Linked DNA regions of Homo sapiens: region 2 is linked to region 1. The links come from fine-mapping of genetic effects on gene expression. A gene starts in region 1. The other region holds a variant in brackets. All regions are shown on one strand. Distances are between the middles of the regions.

Region 1 (10,489 bases):
CCATGCTTCCTCCTCCTTCCCCTGCCTCTGATAACCATTTTTCTACTTTCTGTTTCTATGAGATTGACTTTTTTAGATTCCACATATAAGTGAGATCATACAGTATTGTCTATGTCTGGCTTATTTCACTTAGCATAATTTCCTCCAATTCTTTCCATGTTGTCATGGATGCAAATGACAGAATTTCTTTTTTAAGGTTGTATAGTATTTCATTGTGTATATGTACTACATTTTCTTTATCCATTCATTCATTGATGGATTCTTAGATTGCTTCCACGTTTTGACTACTATGAATAATGCTGAAATAAACACTGGAGTGCAGATATCTCTTTAACATACTGATTTCAATTCCTTTGAATATATACCCAGAGAGGGGAAAGGAATCTGAGCAGGCATTTCTCAAAAGAAGAGATACAAATCCCCAACAAATATATTAAAAAATGTTGAAAATCTCTAATCATCAGGGGAAATGCAAATTAAAACCACAGTGAAATATCACCTCACAGCTGTTAGAATGGCTATTGTCAAAAGGATGAATAACAGGTATTGACGTGGATGTGGAGACTGTTGGTGGCAATATAAACTGGTGCTCTCACTATGGAAAGAAGTATGGAGGTTCCTCAAAAAGCTGAATTGCTTTTGAATATTTGTTGAAAATAACTTGCCCATATACGTTGTGGGTCTGTTTATGGACTCTATTCTGTTTCATTGATCAATACCACACTGTCTTGAATATTGTAGCTTTACAGTAAAAATTGAAATCAGGTAGTATTATCCCCCTAATGCTCTTTGTAAAAGTTGTTTTGGCTATTTTATTCAATTTCCATATGAACTTTAGAATCAGCTTGTCAATTTCTACAGAAAAAGCCAGCTAGGACTTTGATCGGGGTTGTGCTGTAACTATAAATCAATTAGGAGTGAATTGACATCTTAATGATATCAATTCTTCTGCCCTATGAATACAGTATATTTCTACATTTATTTAAGCCTAAAGTTTTCAGGACAGGTCTTACACATCTTTAATCAGATTTATCTCTAACTTCTAAAGCAAGACCCTTCTGTGTATGCTACCCAAAGCCCTGTGAGGGTTTTTTTTTTTATAATAGATTCCATTCAATAATAGGCTCCATTCAATAATTGATGAGATGAGTGTTTTGAGGAAATGCAAATTTACCAGAGAGACAAAATGTATCCTAAATAGTTTTCAATTTGTTTTTTAGTCAGAATTAATGCAGTTGAAATCTTTTAGTTTCACATTAGGCACACAGCAAGCTTGCAAATGCTTTTAGACCGATTAGGGATCAGCTACCAGCTCTGTGTACTTTGGTGTGTGTGTGTGTGTGTGTGTGTGTGTGTGTATGTATGTTATGTGTGTGCCCACATCTGCCTGTATGGTCTCTTAGTTAATTTTTATAATTGTATAATTAATTGGTGCTGTCAAATCTTTGGGGCATGGTAGGGAGAATTCTAAGATGGTCCTAAGATTCTTGTCTTCTGTTATACATTCTCCACTTAGGTATGGTTGGGACCTGTGAATATGCTGGGCTATCACTCTTGTGATTAGGTTACATTATGTGGCAAAGGTGAAGAGATTTTGCAGATGTAATCAAGGCACACAGTTAATTTTTGAGTTAATCAAAGGGGTGATAATCTTGGGTGGGCCTGACTTAATCTGGTAAAAGACCTTAAAAGAGGCACTGGACCCCTCCTGAGGAGAAAGAAGTTTTTCTGTTGGCCTTGGCTAAGTAGAACAACCATGTTGTCAACTGCTAATGGAGAGGGGCTGCCTCTAGATCCAGTAAATGCTACGGGTCTTAATTCTGTAACTGCAAGGAACTGAATTTGGCCAACAATCTGAATGAGTTTGGAAGAAGATTCTGAGTTGCACATGAGAACACAGCCCAGCCAAAAACTTGATTGCAGCCTTGTGAGACCCTGAGCAGTGCTCCAAGCTAAACCATACCTGGACTCCTGACACGTGGAAACAGATAATTAATGTGTGTGTTTTTAGCAATGAACAATAACTAAGTCAGCGGATACTCTAGCTGGCATTTGAAATGCTTCCCATTATGTTCGTTTGCTAGACCTGCCATAACAAAGTATAACACCATAGACTGGGTAACTTAAACAACAGAAATTTATTTTCTTGTAATTCTGGAAGATCAAGGTGTAGGTAAGTTTGGTTTCTTCTGAAGCCCCATCTTGTCTTGCAAGTGGTTGCCTTCTCACTGCATCCTCACATGGTCCTTCCTCTATGTGCATATATGTCTAAGTCCTAAACTCTTCTTAAAAGGACACCAGTCATATTGGATTCGGGCCCATCTTAGAGACATTACTTTAACTGAATTACCTCTTTAAAGACCTTTTCTCCAAATGCAACATACTCTCCCATGTGTTATCTTATTTGAAACCCAAAACAATGCTGTGGGGCATATCAGACCAGTATTATTTTGCTCCCCACTGGAAATTTGGGAAAACACTCTCAGAGCACTAACTTAATGTCACATAGCACATAAATTGTCTTCTGACTCTGAGTCTAGTGCTCTATCCAGTAGATTAAGTATTCAGATAAAGCATCCGAACCCAAACAGCAATGGACTTCTATTGGATAAGCATATTTGTAATATCTTATTGCCAGTTCTTTTTCTTTTTTCTTTTTTTTTAAACTGAGAATCTGTGCAAGCTACTGGCAGTTCAAATGCAGATCCTGCAGTTGCCCCCATCTCAACACCCTTGCTATGAGGGTTTTCTCTTTGTGTAGATAAGGGCTGCTTGGCCCACACTGGATTATCCCATTTTTACTGGCATTTCTGTGGGAGAAACTTATTATAAAGTAACCCCACTTGAACCTTTTTATGGCAGGACAAAGCAGTGACTCGAGTGTACACCAGCTCAGTTTGTACTTATTTTTTTTTTAACCTGTGTGCCAGGTTTTTGATACATGCTAAAAGTGATTGTTTGGAATATATCACCTCAGTGAGATTGTAAACTTCTGTACAAGGTGCTTTCTACCCAATAAGCATTTAGTGTGTAAGGTAGGTATACAATAATTATTGAATAAGCATAGTGGAGAAGCCAGTGGAAGCATTCCTGTTAACAAAGGGGAATTGGGTTCAATACACTTGCACGTAAAAGGTAATAATGCAAATTCTATGTATATTTGGAGTTCTTTGATTATTTGGTAAAGTCCAACAATGTGGTATTATCTTTAGTTCTAGCAAGTTTTTGAGTAGCTGATTATTCTCAAATTTACCTAAAACCTACTACTAGAATTTCAGTGTATGTAAGTTGAAATACAAAGTCAGCAATGTTGAAGATCTCAGATCCCAGAGGGAGAAATCCTAGAAAACATAAAGATTCCACACTCACCGCATCACTTCCTTAAGAAGAAGAAGAAGAAAAAAACAGCCAAAGAAAAAAAATCACAATAGTGATTAAACTGGTTGCTAAGAGCAAACTCCCTTTATTTTCCCAAGGAGGAGTCTGGAATTATAAGTAGAAAGGGCAAAGGAATAGGTGTAAGAAGGTGGCCCCAGGCTGTAACCGTCAAGAAGGCAAAGAATGAATAGAAGACAAGCAAGGGGAAAAACAGGCTTGACTGGGGTTTTTTTTGGGGGCTAGGCTGATAGAGCAGAATCAAGATTCTGACTTAGAAGAGCAGTCCCACCAGAGTTTGGAAGCAGTTTGCATAGTGGTTAAGAGCCTGGGTACCAGAATCACACCGCTTGGGATCCTGAGTCCCGCTCTGCCACTTACTATTTATGTAACCTCTGGCAACTTGGTTAACCTATACACCTCAGTTTTGTCACTTGTAAAATGGAGACAATAGTGTGTAACTTGTAGAGTAGCTGTGAATTAGGTAAGTTGATGCTTCAGTGCTTGGTTCATAGCAGACGCTCAGTAAAATGTTAAACTGTTATTTGTAGTTTTTATCCTTCCTCTTTCTTAATGTTGTGTACTGCAGCAGGGAGGGGGAGGGATGAAGCGCTTATCCCACTAGAAGAGTGATATTTGTGTGAGAGCCTGGGTCAGGCTTATTTTGAGACGTGGGCCCCACTGAGGTGAGGTGGCACCGCTTCCAGGGCACACCCTTTGCTCGGGCCCCGCCGTGACTATGAGGAGGCCGAGGCCACGGCTGGCAGAATGCACGGGTGGACCTCCTTGGAGTGGCTAACCCGGGGCGGCTGCACTGTTGTCCCTGGATACTTGACACTTTTCACTTTTTCTGCCTCCCGGCACTAGAATCCATGTGGGCTCACACCAGAGCCTCCCGGTTTCCGAGGCGTGAGGGCCACTTAGCGGTCATTCAGCTTCAGGGTCCGGCCCTGTCACGCTTTCGCTACAGCCTGGGAGTTCCGTTCGGACCCCACACACCGTCCTAGCCCCGGCTCCCCGCCACCCTGCCTCCCGCGCAGGCGCCGCCGGGGCCACCCCCGCCGCCATGTTTCCCCCGCCCGCGCGCTCCCCCCCCCACTGCCCCCTCCCTCCCCAACTGGGTTCCCGCCCCCCTCCCTCAGCAGCCCCCCCACACCCTGGTGAGGTCAGGCGGAGGCTCTGCCGCTGCGGCCGCAGTAGCTCAGCTCCTATTCCTGGGAAGCCTGGAACGGGGACTTTTGAAAATAACTGCAGCGGCATTCGGGTTAGGGTCCGTGCTCTCCGCCTGCGCCAGGACAGGGTGAAGTGGTCGGGGCGAGCAGAGGGTGCGAAGGTGCGGGTGCTGGTGCCTCGCAGCAGGAGGGAGCCCCGGCTGCGCCGCGCGACTCCCTCTTTGGCCCTCGGAGCGCAGCACCCGGCGGACAAGCGGCGGGACGCCAGGACGCGGCGAGCAAGGTGAGGCAGGGTCCTGAAGTCACAGGGGCTCCAGCAGCCGCTTCCCTGCCTTCGGACCCGGCGCTGCGCGGTGCGCGGCGAGGAGTTGCGATCTGTACCAGGGGCAGAGGAGCAGAGGAGCAGGGAAACAGCTTCATTTTGCCCGCCGCCCCCTCTTTTTCTCCCGCGTGCTGGTGCGCGCCCTCATCCTTACACCTTCGCATCCCTTTCTGCCGGTCCCTCTGGCTCCGTCGGACGCCTGGGTTCTTCTAGGACCCCAGAACCCGGCTTTCCTGTGCTTCTTTGTCATCTCTCCAAGATCTTCTCCTCTGGGCCTCGCTGTTGCTGCCCTGACGGTCTGGGGTCCCGCTGCCCGCCCCGGCCCTACTGTCTCTTGCCCTCTAACAGTTTCTGCTTTGTGCCTCCTAATCCATCTCTCCTTCAGAATCTTCTAACTTAGGAGGCTCCTCTGCTGGCTCCCAAGTCAGGAGCACACTCCTCTTCTTCCTCGAAGCTTTTAACTTAGCTCTGAATGTCTTCAGCTCTGAATATTTTGACTTTTTTGTTTGTTTGTTTGTTTAATTACAGTTGACTAATGATTTTCTTGGAGGCTTATAGTCTAGGCTACAGTTTACTGAAAGTGATGAGATCATTCCTTCACTAAATAGCCTTAGTAAATATCAACTAGGGAACTTTAAAGTTTCTTTCTAGGTTTCATTAACTTAGTCCAAGAACAATAGCCACTTAAAATGTATGTATATATGTTGGTACGCAATCTTCGTACATGGTCCTAAATCTGATTCTTCCCTGGCTGCTGAGCAGGCCTGAGAGAGAGGATTGGTGGGAATTGTGATGCCTGGCTCCATTTCTCTAATTGTAAACTAGGATGTTAATCGTTTTAATGTAGTCAGAGGACTTTAGTGGTTTGGGATAAAGTCGCTCAAGTTAGCATAGGCTGGTAACTAAGCACATTGAATGGAGACTAAGAGACGCTGGGATTTAAAACTGTCTCTGGAGGGCACCTGCTTTCTTTTTTTTGAAGCCACAGTTTCTTAACAGTAGATTTCATGTTTGTATAAACCCTCTAAAAGCAGCATATTTTAAAACCACGTAGTTACAAAAAAGACTACTCACTCTTAGCGATATCGCTTTCTCCCCATGTAGTTGTGGTGTTAGCTCCCATACTGAGGTTCATTTGCTCACTTTCATACTGCAATTAGTGTGTGAAGAAAGCTGAATGGAGAAGCACAAAGTGGAGGCAAATACCAGTGAACAAGCACATGCTGACATACGCAGCTGTGTTTTTGGAAATAGACTGTATCTAGTGTTCAAATTTAAAAACTGAGAAAAATGAAATAATTCAGCATTTATGACATCATTTTACATCTAAAAATATTAGCTCCCTTAACTGCAAGTTCTTATTAATATCCTCATACTTAACGGTAAAAGAGTTGTTTGCCTGATGTATGACCAAGTGTTGCCATTGACACAGTGTGCACTAATTGGCAGCAATCTCAGAAGAAACCAGGTTGTGAATGAAGATAATGGCTAAATTTCACTGTCCTGGTAGCACGTCTTATGGCAGTGAGATGAGAGTAGTTTCTGCTGCAACATCAAATGATGTATTTAAAAAACAGATAAATAAGAGCTTCAATTATTAAAAAGCCCAAGGTTTTCAATCTGCCATTTTTATAAGCACACTTCAAAAAGTGTAGTGTGATTATATAAGGCTCAGTTGATGTTCTGAAGAAAGTAGTTTTCACAAGAAAAGTAAGGCCTATTGCTTATCAATTTAGTTAGATAACTTGCAGATGATTTGTAGTTTCCCAATTGATTTGGTAAATTCCTGAGTTTACTTGAGGTTTATTAAAAAATGGAATGTAGTAGGGAAAGGGTACTTATTCTAATAGGCCCACTTTCTAAGTCTGTAATTTTCTTAGCAAACTATTCTCAAAATACATAAAAACTTACAACTTTTTCAAGGAAAAGAGTTTATACTATTTTCTTACTTTTTTCTTTTCATGCTTATTATTGATACAAAATCTAAGCTAAGATTGCTGCTAATGTGATTGCATAGTAAGACTATTTATATTTGCCAGGAAAAGAATAAAGGTGGATGAGTTAGCCATAAGCATTTTGCTCTGAATCTTCAATATGACTCAATATGTGTTTGATAGTCCATCTGGTACACCTAGAGGTTAGCAGACTGGATATTTCTGATATTACTAAATGTAACTGCACTTACTTATTGGATTATCTTCTTTCTCATTTTATGTACATTTCAAATTATGCTTCTTCATGTAATTTGACTTGCAGTAGTGAAATGAGACTGACCAATTTTCAAATTGTTTGATTTTTATTGATGTTTGATAAACCACTAAAACCTCTTGAAAATATTTTTTTCTTAAATCCACTGATTGAAACCGATGTATTTTTATTGCTATGAAATAATACAACAAATTTCCAGGAATTATTTCAGAAAATGTGGAAAGACTGTAGAGAAATGAATAGCCCTAGAGAAAATATCTCAAAATTATAAAAATGGCTTTCTCAAGTTACTGATATTCATAACAATCAGGTTTTTATGTATCATTCATTCATTTACTAATTCATTTTACAAAATCTACTGGGTACTTGTGTGCCAAGGCCCTGTGTTAGGCACAATGATAAACCTTATAAGGCATGATCTTTGCTCTTGTGGAGTATCACAGTGCTTATATTCTACCAGAGAATACAGACAATAAACGAGCAAACAAATGAAGAAGATCCTTATAGACTGTAGTAAGAGCAATGAAAATAAGTAGGGGAATATGATACAGATAGCTAGGAAGGGCCTACTTTAGTGTGGGAAGTCAGAAAAGGCCTTTCAGAGAAGATGATTGAGCAGAGACCTGAAAGAGAAGAGAGAATAGGCCTACCTTGTCAGGATCTGGGAGAACATTCCCGAGATAACATTCTTGCAGAGAGAAGAGTAAGAGCCAAGGCCTTGAGGGGGGAAAAAGAGACTTGGCGTTTTTGAAGAGCAGAAAGCAAGCCAGCATGGCGGATTAAAGAAGATGTTACAGAGCCTAGAAGCAGCTCAATAACCGATAAATAGGACTTGGAGGTCCTGAGAAAGAATTTGGGTTTGATTCTCAGAACAATAGGAAGCCACTGAAGAGTCTTTCCTGGGGAAGGTCATTGGCTTAAAAAAATTATCCAGGGAAATTTAAAAAAAAATGTTTTGCAGAGGATAAATAGAATGTCTACTCATTCAGTCATTTATATTAATACCTGAGAATAAAAAAAACTCTATGATCAGTATGCTAAATAATCATGTAATTCGGTTCCTCTACTCTGTTTAGGTAAGGGGATGGGGGAATGGGAACCCTGAGGTGAGTATGTTAAAAGGCAGTTTACTTTCCACTGTCACATTGTGACTTGTGCTACAAGGTAAGTTGTCACCAACTTTATTAAAAATCAGATCATTGTTCAACTTAAGAATTTATTTTTCAAAGAATGATATCTTATTTTCTCATGGAAATATGTTTCCTTTGGAAGGTTGGAAATTTTATTTTGTATAAAGGAATAACCTAGGTTTTAGAAAGGGCCTTTGGAATTTTAAGAAGGGCTTATCATTTTCTTTTACCTGTTGCCTCTCCAACATTTTCAAATGGCCATACCTTTATTCCTTGAGAGATTAGGGTTACTGTGTTTCCTGAGGCTTAAATGAATTTATTGCCCTAAGCCCTTCCTTGAAAGCAATCCAGCTTTGAGGTCTAGTTGGTCCCAAATAGGAATGCAGATGATTATTGACATTCCATAGGAGTAAATCCTAATATTGTGGGGGAATAACCTGCAAAATAACCTTCATCAGTGCCTGCAGGGTCAACTTGATTTGATCCCAGCCTACTTTCCCATATGTCCTTATTATTCCCTTTCACAAATCTCTATTGGTTTAAACTGATTTTCCCCAGTTTGGAACTTTTGTGCTTAGCATTATTCCTGGCATAGAGTACGTGCACAGTGGGTGCTTGTCAAATGGATGCCATGCCTTTCTTTTTTGTCATTTCAAATTCCAGGTCCTATTACACTATTCCCCATTGAACTAGATCTCCCCCTCTGAAGGTGAACAGCAGTCACACACTTGCCCTGTTGTGTCATAATTATGCTTATTTGATGCCTGGCCATCTCCCCACTTGCCTCTGGCTTCATGAAGGCGACCTAGACCTCATCCGGTTTGCTCATTGTTGTATTCTGAGCACCCAGCACATGGTATGCACTTTATAAATAGTTATTGAATAATGAATAAATACTGTCTTGTGATGTTTCTCCTATTAATTTTTTGATGTTAGATCATTTAATACTGTTTTACTTTTCACGTGTTTGGTGTTCCGAAGTGGTTTCTGAGAGAGGTTGTAGAGCATACTTGTTAAGAGCTCAAGCTCTGGAGCTAGGCCACCTAGGTTTCAATTCCAGCTAGGAGACTTAATAGTTGTGAGACACTGGGTGAGTCAGTAAACCTCCCTGTACCTCAGTTATCTCATATGTAAAAAAGGGGTAATAGAACTTGCCTCTTATGGTACTTGCAAAGATTACATGAATTAGCTAGGCCCACTTTTTCTTTTCTCTTTTTCTTTTTCTTTTTTTTAGACGGAGTCTCGCTCTCTCACTCTATCGTTCAGGCTGGAGTGCAGTGGCATGATCCCGGCTCACTGCAACCTCCGCCTCCTGGGTTCAAGCGGTTCTCCTACCTCAGCCTCCCGAGTAGCTGGGACTACAGGTGCGTGCCACCACGCCAGGCTAGTTTTTTGTATTTTTAGTAGAGACAGGGTTTCACCATGTTAGCCAGGATGGTCTCGATCTTCTGACCTCGTGATCCACCTGCCTCGGCCTCCCAAAGTGTTGGGATTACAGGCGTGAGCCACTGCTCCCGGCCTAACTTTTTATTTTTAGTGGAGACAGGGTTTCACCATGTTGGCGAGGCTGGTTTCAAACTCTTGACCTCAGGTGATCCACCCACCTCGGGCTCCCAAAGTGCTGGGATTGCAGGCATGAACCACCTCCCCCGGCCTAGGCCCACAATTTGTTTGCAATTTTTAAATTTCTAAAGCTCTGAAAACTGAAAAAGATTTTATTTGGTAACTTAGATGCCAAAACTCATGTGGTGGCAAAACCTGACTTAAACTGACATAGGGTATTTATAGTCTTTATTCTACTTAATGTTGATCTTTATTTTGTTTTGCTATAGAATTACTAATATGTTTATGGGGTTGCACCATAGACCCTAATGGTGTATTACATAACATATGGTATATAAAGTATATTTCCTGTCTAAAGGTCTGGACATTTCTAAATTCAGAAACACATCTGGCACCAAGATTTTTCGATGAGATTGTACACCTTGCAGTAAACTGCTTAAATCAGGGCCTTGCACATAGTATGTTGTTGCTGTGGGTGGTGGAGATTAGGGAGGTAAATAAACTACTTTATCTTTCCCAATAGCTTGCTCATAATAGTTACCATGTAAATATATACTGATTTACTCATGCAATAACTGTAAATAGAGGACTGGCTGTGTGGTTCTCATGTCATAGGAAAATAGATATGGCAGGGTCATGTAATTGAAATGAGCCAAGACTCGTCTGTTAGTACTCTCATCTGGTACCATTCAGAGCAGTTTAGTTTTTGTTTTTCTGTT
Region 2 (10,489 bases), 100 kb before region 1:
ATAACTTTTTAAGTTTTCTTCTTTTTCTATTCATGAATCTTGGTTGAATGTTATTTTATATTTGTAGGGCTATGTGGGTTTTCTTCTCTCCTAACTTACAGATGCTCTCAGATCATTGTTTAACTTTGATAGCTTAACATTCTCTTTCTATATTCAAAAAATCAGTGACCTTGCCCTCTATCTGCCGGCTTAAGCTTTCATACACTGATCCAAAGCTTGTTGGAACATGGATATTTTAAACTATTACTCTCCCATATATCTACTTTTTAAGGGATTTTTAAACTTTCATCACTTTTAAATAAGTTTTGAATAACAAATACATGCATATGGTGCAAATCCCAAGCAGTAAAAATAAGTAAATACATTTAAAAAACTCAAAAAGTGAAAAGTTGTCCTTCTATTCTAATCACAGCCATTCGATTTCCTTCCCCAGGGCAATAACTACCACCAACTTGTATTTATTTTCCAAAGACATTCTAAGCATTTACACAATACAAATAATAACATACTTTATACACTCATCAACACTCAACTTTTTTCATTTAGCATTATTTTGGAGGTAGTTCATATCAGTACATGTAAAAATGCCCAATTCAATGTATGGATGAGCCATAATTTGTTGACGGACATCTAGATGGTTTCAAAGTTTTTGCTATTACAAACATTGCTCTAATGCCTATTTTTGTAAAGGTCTTTTTGTATATATGGGAGTATATCTGTAGGTTAAATCCCTTGAATGGAAATTGCTGGGTCAAAGGGTGGGTATATTTTTAATTTTGATAGAAATTACCAAATTGTCTCTATTGCAATCAAAATAATTATTAATCCCATCAACAATGTATGAGGGTGCCCATTTCCCCACACTCTTGCAACAGAATGTGTTATTTTTATCTTTCTTTATCTGATACATATTGTAGTTGTACATATTCTAGATTTAGTTTGCACATTTATGAGACTGAACACATTTCATATGTTTAAGAGAAATAGCTATTTCCTTTTTAAGTGAATTATCTATATTTATCCATTGTCTAATTTGTAATTGGGTTCTTGGCCTTAGTTTTATTGATATGTAGGGGTCCTTTATATATTAAGGAAACTGGCCGTTTGTCTGTAGGGCGTGTTGCTATTTTTTCCAGTTTGTCTTTGATTTCCTGATAATGATTTTTTGTGATACAATTTTTTTAGATTATATAGTCAAATTGATCAATCTTTGCTTTTATGGCTTCTGGGTTATATGGCATCTTAGATCTTTCCCACCCTGAAATTATAAAAAAATTGCCCACGTTTTATTCTAGTATTTTTATGGTTCTGGTACTTCAGATTCAAATATTTAATCCATTTGGTATATGGCATGAGATTTAATTTTCTAAATATACTTTAAAAATCATTATCTTTCCCTCATTATGTAAATATAGCTGCACATTATAAAAATTTTAGAGGTACCAAAAAACTAAAAGAAAGAAAAATTATCTCTCATGTTATCACCTAGAAATAACTACTGTTAACTTTTTTGTAATTCCTTTTTCTTTTTTTCTATATATAGAAACTGCTTTTTTCTTACAAAACTAGGGTCATGTTTATATATAGGGTCATATTATATATATAGTTTAGTATTCTGTCCTTTTTTCAACTTAATATTGTATCATGAGAAGATTTCCCATGTCAAATGTGCTCACTCTTGAAATAGAAACACTTGTTGTCTATCTGGGCCTGTCCATCTGCATCTGCAGTTGATCCTTGAAGAACAGGGGTTTGAACGGCAAAAGTCCACTTACATGTGGCTTTTTTGTTCAATCAAATGAGGAACAAAAGTATTTCTGGGATGCAAAACTGCCTTTGAGGAGGACCAACTTTTCCTATATGGTGGTTCCACAGGGCCAACTGTGGGACTTGAGTATGCAAGGATTTGGGTATATGTAGGTGTCCTGGAATCAATCCCTCATGGGTACTAAGGGACAACTGTATTTTAAGGCTTAGTTTGAAAGCTCTGGAGGGATAGAAACTGTGTCTGTGCAAATGGTTACGACTAGCGTTTGGGCATTCCCGTTTTTTGGTGGGCACCCAGTAAATGCTTACTGATAATGTCATGCTTTCCCTTCCATCATTCTAATCTGTGATTAGAAGTTAAGTACAGAGATACTTAATTTGGGACCAGATTCCATTCTTTATATAATGCTCCAAGAATAAATCACAGTGTTGCATGTCAGGTAAATATTCAATAAAATTTTGATCTAATACCATCTTTACACTGAACTATACCAAATCATTATTTTCTGTGAACAATTTTACCATTAAGTTTATACCTCATTTAATTAGGTAATCATGTAATAATTAAACAGACAATGCAAACAGACTATGATGGGAAAAGATTTGATTTCCAATGAGGGATTAATGCAAGCCTTCATGGAACAAGTGACATTTGATATGGGACTGGATGGAATTTGACAGAAATAGATATGGGAAAGGCAAGACATTTCTGGCAGAGGGGATCAAATGTGCTAGAATCCAGAAGTGAGTATATACCAGACATTTTCAGTAGATTGTCAGTAGTCCAGTTTGGCTGGTGCAGAGGTTACATGAGTGAGAATAGGGAGAGGCTAGGTTTACAAATTAGCTTTGTAAATGCAAAGTTTAACCAAGGCTTTGAAAGACAGACTAAGGAGTTGATACTTAAAAAAATTTTTCTTTTTCTTTATAATTTTATTTCCTCTTTAGCCTTTCTGTCTTGAGAAGTTGATACATTTTTGGGCATTAGAGTGATTAAAGGTTTTCACTTTTTTACTATGGAAAATGTTGAACATATACAAAAGTAACAGAACAATATGACAACTCCTCATGCAGCCATCACCCTGCTGCAGCAATTGTCATCTTATGACCACTCTCATTTAATCTCATGCCCCATTTACCCCTTATTATGTGGAAGCAAATCCTAGGCATCCTATTGTTTCATACATGTGTCCCTGAAACATAAAGATTTTTTACAAAAATAACCACAAAACCATGATCACACAAAAGAGCTGACAATATTTCCTTAATATCATTTAAGGGTTTTGAAGAAGATGTGCCATGAGCAGTACAGTGCTCATCTAAGTTAATCAAATTAACTTCATGTTGCATAGACAACTATCTAAATGTAGCTAACATAAACGAGCTATTTTTTTTATGAGTGGTGAATGCTATTAGTCACTTCACTGACACAAAGCCATTTAGGGATTTTTTTTTTTAAAAGCATGCAATTACGTCAGAAGCAGAGCTTGGAAATGATGTTTCTCGGAAAGAAAAATGTCATAGTCAATTTTAATTAAAATAAAACAGACAAAATATTTTCTCAACCTTTTAAAATCTTTCATAGAAATAACAGGAGTCCATTTTCTTCAACAGGGTACCTTTAGCTGGAACTAGCCAACAAAAAGAGAGTTTTTTTTTTAAGACTAAGGTCAAAGATAGATAATTAAAGGAAAGGAAGGAAATAAATAGCTCAGTATTGCAATAAATTGTGTCCTTCTAAAGAAACTGCATTACATTAGAATAGATTATTATCTGGGGGATGGTTGGAAAAATCCTGCTATCGTGGTGGAAATGCAATTACGTTCTGTTGGATGTTGATGAAGAGAAGGCCATTGAAACTCCAAAGCCTCCTTATTCCCCTGGGCGCCTTCATCCTTGTGACATTAGCCACCTGGAGCCCTGTTTGTTCAGTTGCCCATCTGATAGAATATCCAATCTCCTCATTTCCTGTGCTGTGGAAAATTATTTTATTCAGCAAGTGACTGAACTCTTCTTTGGAATGGAAATCGCTGATGTATTTGAGACAATGTATTTGGCACAAAGCAGACCTTGCCCAAAACCCACTGATTTTTTTTTAAAAAGGAAGACAATAGAAGGTATGATTCTGTTTGGTAAAGCAGAGATTATTTAAGAAGGTAAGTAGTTTCTTTATTTTATTTGAATTTCTGAAGATTTACTCTAACAAGGTGGAAGAGGAAAGAAAGCATCCATAGGAACAGCTGTTTCTACTGCTAAATTTTAGTTGTAATTCAGTCCCTCTGTGAGGTCACAAAGCCTTTCAAATCTAGAAGGACAATTGTAAGTTGCAGTGAGAGGCTGATGTATGTGCTGAATGACTTTGCATTCAAGATGGATAGAAAATGGGATATACACACTTAAAAAAAAACTTGCACTTTCTTTGAAATACAGTAGTCCCAATGAGAAATAGAGGCTTTTGGGCGTAGGAGGCAGAACTTGGCATATATTTTATCTTCACTCATTTTCCTGTCCTAACAGGCCTTGCCTTTGCTCTTTGGGTTAATGGCTTGTTCTCTATTGTTCTGTTGTTAACTACATTAAAGTTATGCAAACCTAGTTCCCCTAGATCATAAAGCTCACTTGTCCTTCTGCACAGCATGGAGATAGAGCAAAGGTTTCAACAGATTAGATTATAGTAGATGTGAACTGTGGTACCATCCCCATTATCTGTAGTTTAGACTGCCAGTAATCTTAGGTGGCCTTTCTGGAAGATGTCCAGAACCTGGAAGGAAACAAAGAAGGCCTTTAAGAGGTCAAAATAACTATCATCAAGACCATGGACTTTATCCTGTGGGAGAAGCATCAGGAGAGGCAGTCAGGTCCTAACTTTAATCAGTAACCTTATTTTGTACACAATTCTAATAGACTTCATTATCTGGCTTGCTGGCCCACAGCAAATTAGATGAGAGGCTATTAACAGCAGGTCCACTGAGAATCAGGAGAAATAACAGCCAAAATCTTGAATGCAGGGGTGGAGTAGAATTTTAAAAGACATATGCAAAAACTGGGAAAAGCTCAG[C/T]AGTCAGAGGCTATTGAGCAAAAGACAAACAATCATATGGGCCACAACAGCCTTGAGTATTATCTCCACCTGTTAGATAGGGACTCTCTTGCCTCCCTGTATGTATTCTTAGTACTTAGAACATAAAGTGGTATAAAGGAGACACAGCTTTTTTCTTCCTGGAAGCCAGACATTAAAACAGGATCCCAGTATAATCCAATAGTGCTTATAATGCTAGACCCAAGTCATCAAGCTATAATTAGATTATATTCACTTTACTCTGATTAAGAAGGCAGGAAAAAAAACCCATCCTGGAAATGTGATTGAAAACACTTGGGTAAACACCTAGTAGTGGGATTGCTGGAATGTACGGCAAGTTTATGTTTAACTTTATAAGAAAATGCTAAACTGATTTTCAAAGTGGCTGTACCATTTTGAATTTCTAGTATCAATATTTGAGAGTTCCTGTAGTTCTGTACTCTTGCCACCACTTGGTATTTTCAGTTTAAATTTTTTTTATATTCTAATAGGTGCACAGTGGTATATCATCTTGGTTTTAATTTGCGTTTCCTTAACAACTAATTATATCGAGCATCTTTTCATGGGCTTATTTGCCATCAGTTTATCTTCTTCGATGAAATGTCTGTTGAAATATTTCAACTTTTTTTTTTTTTTGACGGAGTCTTGTTCTGTCGCCAGGCTGGAGTGCAGTGGAGTGATCTCGGCTCACTGCAACCTCTGCCTCCCAGGTTCAAGCAATTCTCCTGCCTCAGCCTCCCGAGTAGCTGGGACTACAGACGAGCACCACCACGCCCAGCTAATTTTTGTACTTTTAGTAGAGACAGGGTTTCACCATGTTGGCCAGAATGGTCTCGACCCTTGACCTCGTGATCCACCTGCCTCGGCCTCCCAAAGTGCTGGGATTACAGGCATGAGCCACCGCGCTCAGCCAGTATTTTGACTTTAAAAAAAAATTGGAATATTTATTTTCGTATTATTGAGTTTTCCGAGTTCTTTATATATTCTGGGTATAAGCCTTTTATCAGATAAGTATTTACCCACCCAAGTGAAACGAAAACTTATGTTTGTACAAAACCCTGTATGCCAATGTTTATAGCAGCTTTATTCATAACTGCTAAAAACTGGAAGCCACCCAAACGTCTTACAACTGGTGAATGGTTAAAAGTTATAGAACATCTATAAAGTAGAATCCTACTCAGCAATAAAAATGAACAAACACCTGATTCACATGACAAAATGGATGAAACTCAAATGCTGTATGCTAAGTGAAAGAAGCTACGTACTGTATAATTCCATTTATGTGAAAATAGATCAGTGGTTGCCAGGAGCTGCAGGGTGGGGACAAAGGGGCAGCATGAGAGAATTGGAACAGTTTTCTATCTTGATTTTGTTGGAGGTTTGTCAACACTCATAGAACTAATTTAATAAAAGATGAATTTTACTGTATGTAAATGATACGTCAATTTTTTTTTTTTTTTTTTACAAAAGGCAAAAATAACAGTTGAGGGTATTGAAAGGAAGTAAGCTTTAAGAATGTGGAAAATGTACTGCTGTGGCTGCATATTGGGGGCTTTCAGTAAGCTGGAACATTAGGTTAGGCATTAGAATTTCATAAAAAGTTTAATCCTGTTTTTAGGGGGCAGAAATAGAAAATTGTAATCACTTGGATTTTAACTTTCAGAAAATTATGAATGCAGCAGTATCAGGCTTTTGCTTGGCAGTGAATAACTCATGTGATGGACAGACAGAGTCTTGGTGGAAGGAGGGGGGAGAGAAAACAAATTATGGATGAATGATCGCCAGCTTCTCCAGCTTTTTCTTATTTTACACACACACACACACACGTGCACACACATACACACAGACACATACACACACAGACACACATATACATACCCACACTTACACACATACACACATGTGCACACACATACTCACATACATATGCGCACACACAGACACACACATACACACATACACATACACATATGCTCACACATACAGACACATGCACACACATACGCACACGTACATACACATACATGCACACATACACACCCCCCATATACACACATACACATACACGCATGTACACACATATACACACACATACACAGGTACACACACATGTAAACACACACAAACACATACATACACTTCAACTTTTTCCTTTCTTCCTCCTTCTCCTTATCCATATACCAGTCTATCAGTCCATCTTTCACATTGGAGCTAAATCTCTTTGTGATCCAGGCACACCAGCAGTACCTCAGCCTCACAGTTTAACTTATTTCCTATGTACATTCCTACCTGTGTGAATTTGCTCACATTGGTCCCTTTGCCAGATATAACCTCTCCTCTCTAACTCCTTTAACCTCTGATAGGCAGACTTGAAACTTTCAAGGTCCAACTCAAGATCCGCCTCTTCCATGAAGCCTTCTTTGATCACCCCAGTCAACTTTGATCACCCAGTGTCACCCCAGGGCATTGAATTTTCCCTCCTTGTATTTGTGGAAAAACAGGTAGAGAAAATTGACTTGACTCTAAAGGCGGCAAGTAGAACAAAATATCAAACATATGCACATTATAGAAGCTAGATTAATGTTGGCTGATGGGCCTGCACCATTAGCTTTGGTTGAGGCAGTATCATTGTAGTGGTTAAGAGCATGGAGGAGGCCGGGCATGGTGGCTCATGCCTGTAATCCCAGCACTTTGGGAGGCTGAGTTGGGTGGATCATGAGGTCAGGAGATGGAGACCATCCTGGCCAACATGGTGAAACCCTGTCTCTACTAAAAATACAAAAATTAGCTGGGCGCGATGGCATGTGCCTGTAATCCCAGCTACTCGGTAGGCTGAGGCAGGAGAATCACTTGAACCAGGGAGTCGGTGGTTGCAGTGAGCTGAGATCGTGCCACTGCACTCCAGCCTGGTGACAGAGCGAGACTCCGAAAAAAAGAAAAAACAAAACATGGAGATGGAGGAGGCACATGCCTAGGTTTCAATACCAGCTCTGCTGTGTACTGGCCGTGTGATATGGACAAATTACTTAACCTCTAAGTCTCAGTTTCCTCATCTATAAAATGGGGATACTAATAACATCTACCTGGGGTTATTGTGAGGAGTAAATAAATTACTTTATATAAAGTGCCTGGCACATATGGAGCTCCATGTAAGTGTTAGCTGCCATTATTTTGGAAGCATAGAATTAGTTGAAAGTAATTCTAATCAGATGGGGTAAACATATTGCAAAGGATACATTGGTTTCAAGGGAAATATTACCATTAGGAGAGGCAGAAATGTAAGATAGTATTCACATTCATCTCGTTCAGGCATGTCAGAAAGATCAACAACACTTGTTCCATTATGGATTCTAAAGTAACTCTGTGAAAATATAGAATTCCAACCTTCATAATGAGACTTTAAAGGGGGCTGCGTAGGCGAGGGCAGGGGGAGATGGGGAGGGAGAGTCAGCTGCTGTATGGACTTCTCTGAAGAGAGCCCTTATAGCTGGCCTGTCCCACGAGCAGCCTTTTGATATTCTAGGCAGCTGCCTGACACTGCACTTTGGTGCTCCACAGTGTAATTAACGGGCATGCACACAGCTGCCTTGTCAAACAATTGACCAGACTTGGCAGTGTATGCTACAGAGGCGGGGTGGTAGCAGGGAGCACCTAGAATACATTTACCACCTTGGGCACTGGGCTTTCCCAACAGCTCTGTAATAACACTGCAGCTGCACCCTGAGCACTTCTCAAAACAGTGTTCCTGCTAACTTCTTAGAGGGGACTATCCAAATTCCTCGATTCAGAATGCGTTTCCATTTTCTACCTTACACAACAACAATATCACTAGCTTGACCTCCTCCTTGATGCTATCAGAGTCAACTGTGACTGGCCCATTAGTTTTTTTTGTTTCTCCTCTAAACCACACAAATACTTTTTCATCTCTATTACCATTAGCCAGATAAATCTTGTTCAGGGAAGGAAGTGTAAGAGGAAGTGTGATGTCAGGAAAAAAACACGGGACTGGGAATCAGAAGACTGCATTTTTTGTTATGGCTCATTAGTTTTATGACCTTGAGAAAGTCGTTCGTTCACTCTGGACCTTTGGGTGTTGTGTACAAGTGAGATGGTTAGGTTGGAGAGGAACTTTCTGGGATATTTGTGGCTTTGAGGATTTAATACTCATAAGCCATTGCAGGGGCTTATGATCTTTGGATCTTTGATGTCATGGAGCCCTGTATAAGAATTTCAGAACCGTCCCTACCCTGAAACTTTGCTTGTTGACAAACAACTGACTCTTAATCAGAATAGCATCCCTGTCACTGAAACTTCCAGCCTACCGTGTTTTTCAGCCTTTCTTGAGGGTGCTGAGTAATTTTAACATGGGGTTGTATTTGGAATGCTACAGCGGCTTTTGGTACAAAGCTCCAGAATGACAAGACAGACCTGAGGATCAATTATAAGCCCAGCTTTGCCATTCCATATATAGGGTGTGTGCCCACCCTGTACTTGCTCATCTAGGTTATGTTTTCCACATTTTATCTGTGTCAGACATCAGGCTCCTAATTTGAGAAATATACTGTTGGTTTTAGCTGAAGTCATTTAGCTCATTTCCTTGTTGGAGAAATGTTGTCTTACACATACAGACTTCCTCTAGAGATGGAGGGGATGGCCCTGGCAATCCTACTGTATGCCTTCTGCACGTTTTTATCCATTTGAAATCAGGTTGAGGAGAACACCAGGGACGGCTCAGAGGGAGTTGAGAATGCCTAAAAAGGATATCAACAGCCTCAGGGTGTGTGTGGTCAGAAGGTTGAGACTCAATAGCCCACAGTACTGCTGGTTTTGCCTGAGGAGTGAGCAATATTTATGGATAACAGCCAGTTGTGTGCACCTCTTCCTGACTATGCATTCACTAATGTGTAGTTGGTACCTTGACATGGGCCATGGTGGAAATATTTTCAGTATAGAAATCAGCAAACACTACAAATCAGATATGTTTTAAAAAAATCTCTTTCTTTCTCTTGTTCAATTGGATAATTTCTTTTCATTCATCTTTCAGTTCAATGGCTCTTTCCTCTGTCATCTCCAATCTGCTATTGATCCCTTCGAGTGAGTTTCAAATTTTTGTTATTGTGTTTTCCATTTCTAAATTTTACATTTGGGCTGGGTGTGGTGGCTCACGCCTGTGAGGCACTTTGGGAGGCCAAGGCAGGCGGATCACTTGAGGTCAGGGGTTCGAGACCATCCTGGCCAACATGGTGAAACACCGTCTCTACTAAAAATACGAAAAAATTAGCTGGACCTGGTGGTGCGTGCCTGGGGAGGCTGAGGCAGGAGAATTTCTTGAGGCTGGGAAGTGAAGGTTGCAGTGAGCCACTGTGAGATCGCATTACTGCACTCCAGTCTGGGCAACAGAGGAAGACTCTGTCTCAAAAAGAAACAAATCAATAAATAAATTTTACGTTTACTTCTCTTTTATATCTTCTATTTCTTTTAGAGATTTTCTATGTTTTCAATTATTGCAAGAATGTTTACAATTGCATAGAAGAGCATTTTTTTGTTTTTTGAGACGGAGTCTCACTCTGTCTCCCAGGCTGGAGTGCAGTGGCGCGATCTCGACTCACTGCAAGCTCCGCCTCCTGGGTTCACGCCATTCTCCTG

Which allele goes with the higher level. Alleles are on the strand shown, and positions count from the first base shown. SD is a standard deviation of normalised expression in the study named.
With allele T in place of C in region 2, the expression in esophagus mucosa of the gene that starts at base 4,528 in region 1 is higher (small effect, 0.36 SD a copy in GTEx).

Evidence for each region. PIP is the estimated chance that this variant, and not a neighbour inherited with it, causes the effect.
Region 2: its variant is the best candidate, but not a certain one, in a credible set for the expression of KLHL13 in esophagus mucosa (GTEx, PIP 0.69).

What each region holds. Positions count from the first base shown.
Region 1 is chrX:118,110,849-118,121,337 of GRCh38, reverse strand. It overlaps KLHL13 (kelch like family member 13), which reads left to right and starts at 4,528. Exons shown (of 8, transcript NM_001168302.2): 1 at 4,528-4,830.
Region 2 is chrX:118,214,635-118,225,123 of GRCh38, reverse strand. No RefSeq gene overlaps it. Among named protein-coding and RNA genes, the nearest start is that of KLHL13, 100 kb to the right of the region's middle. The variant C/T (reference allele first, on the strand shown) is at 4,826.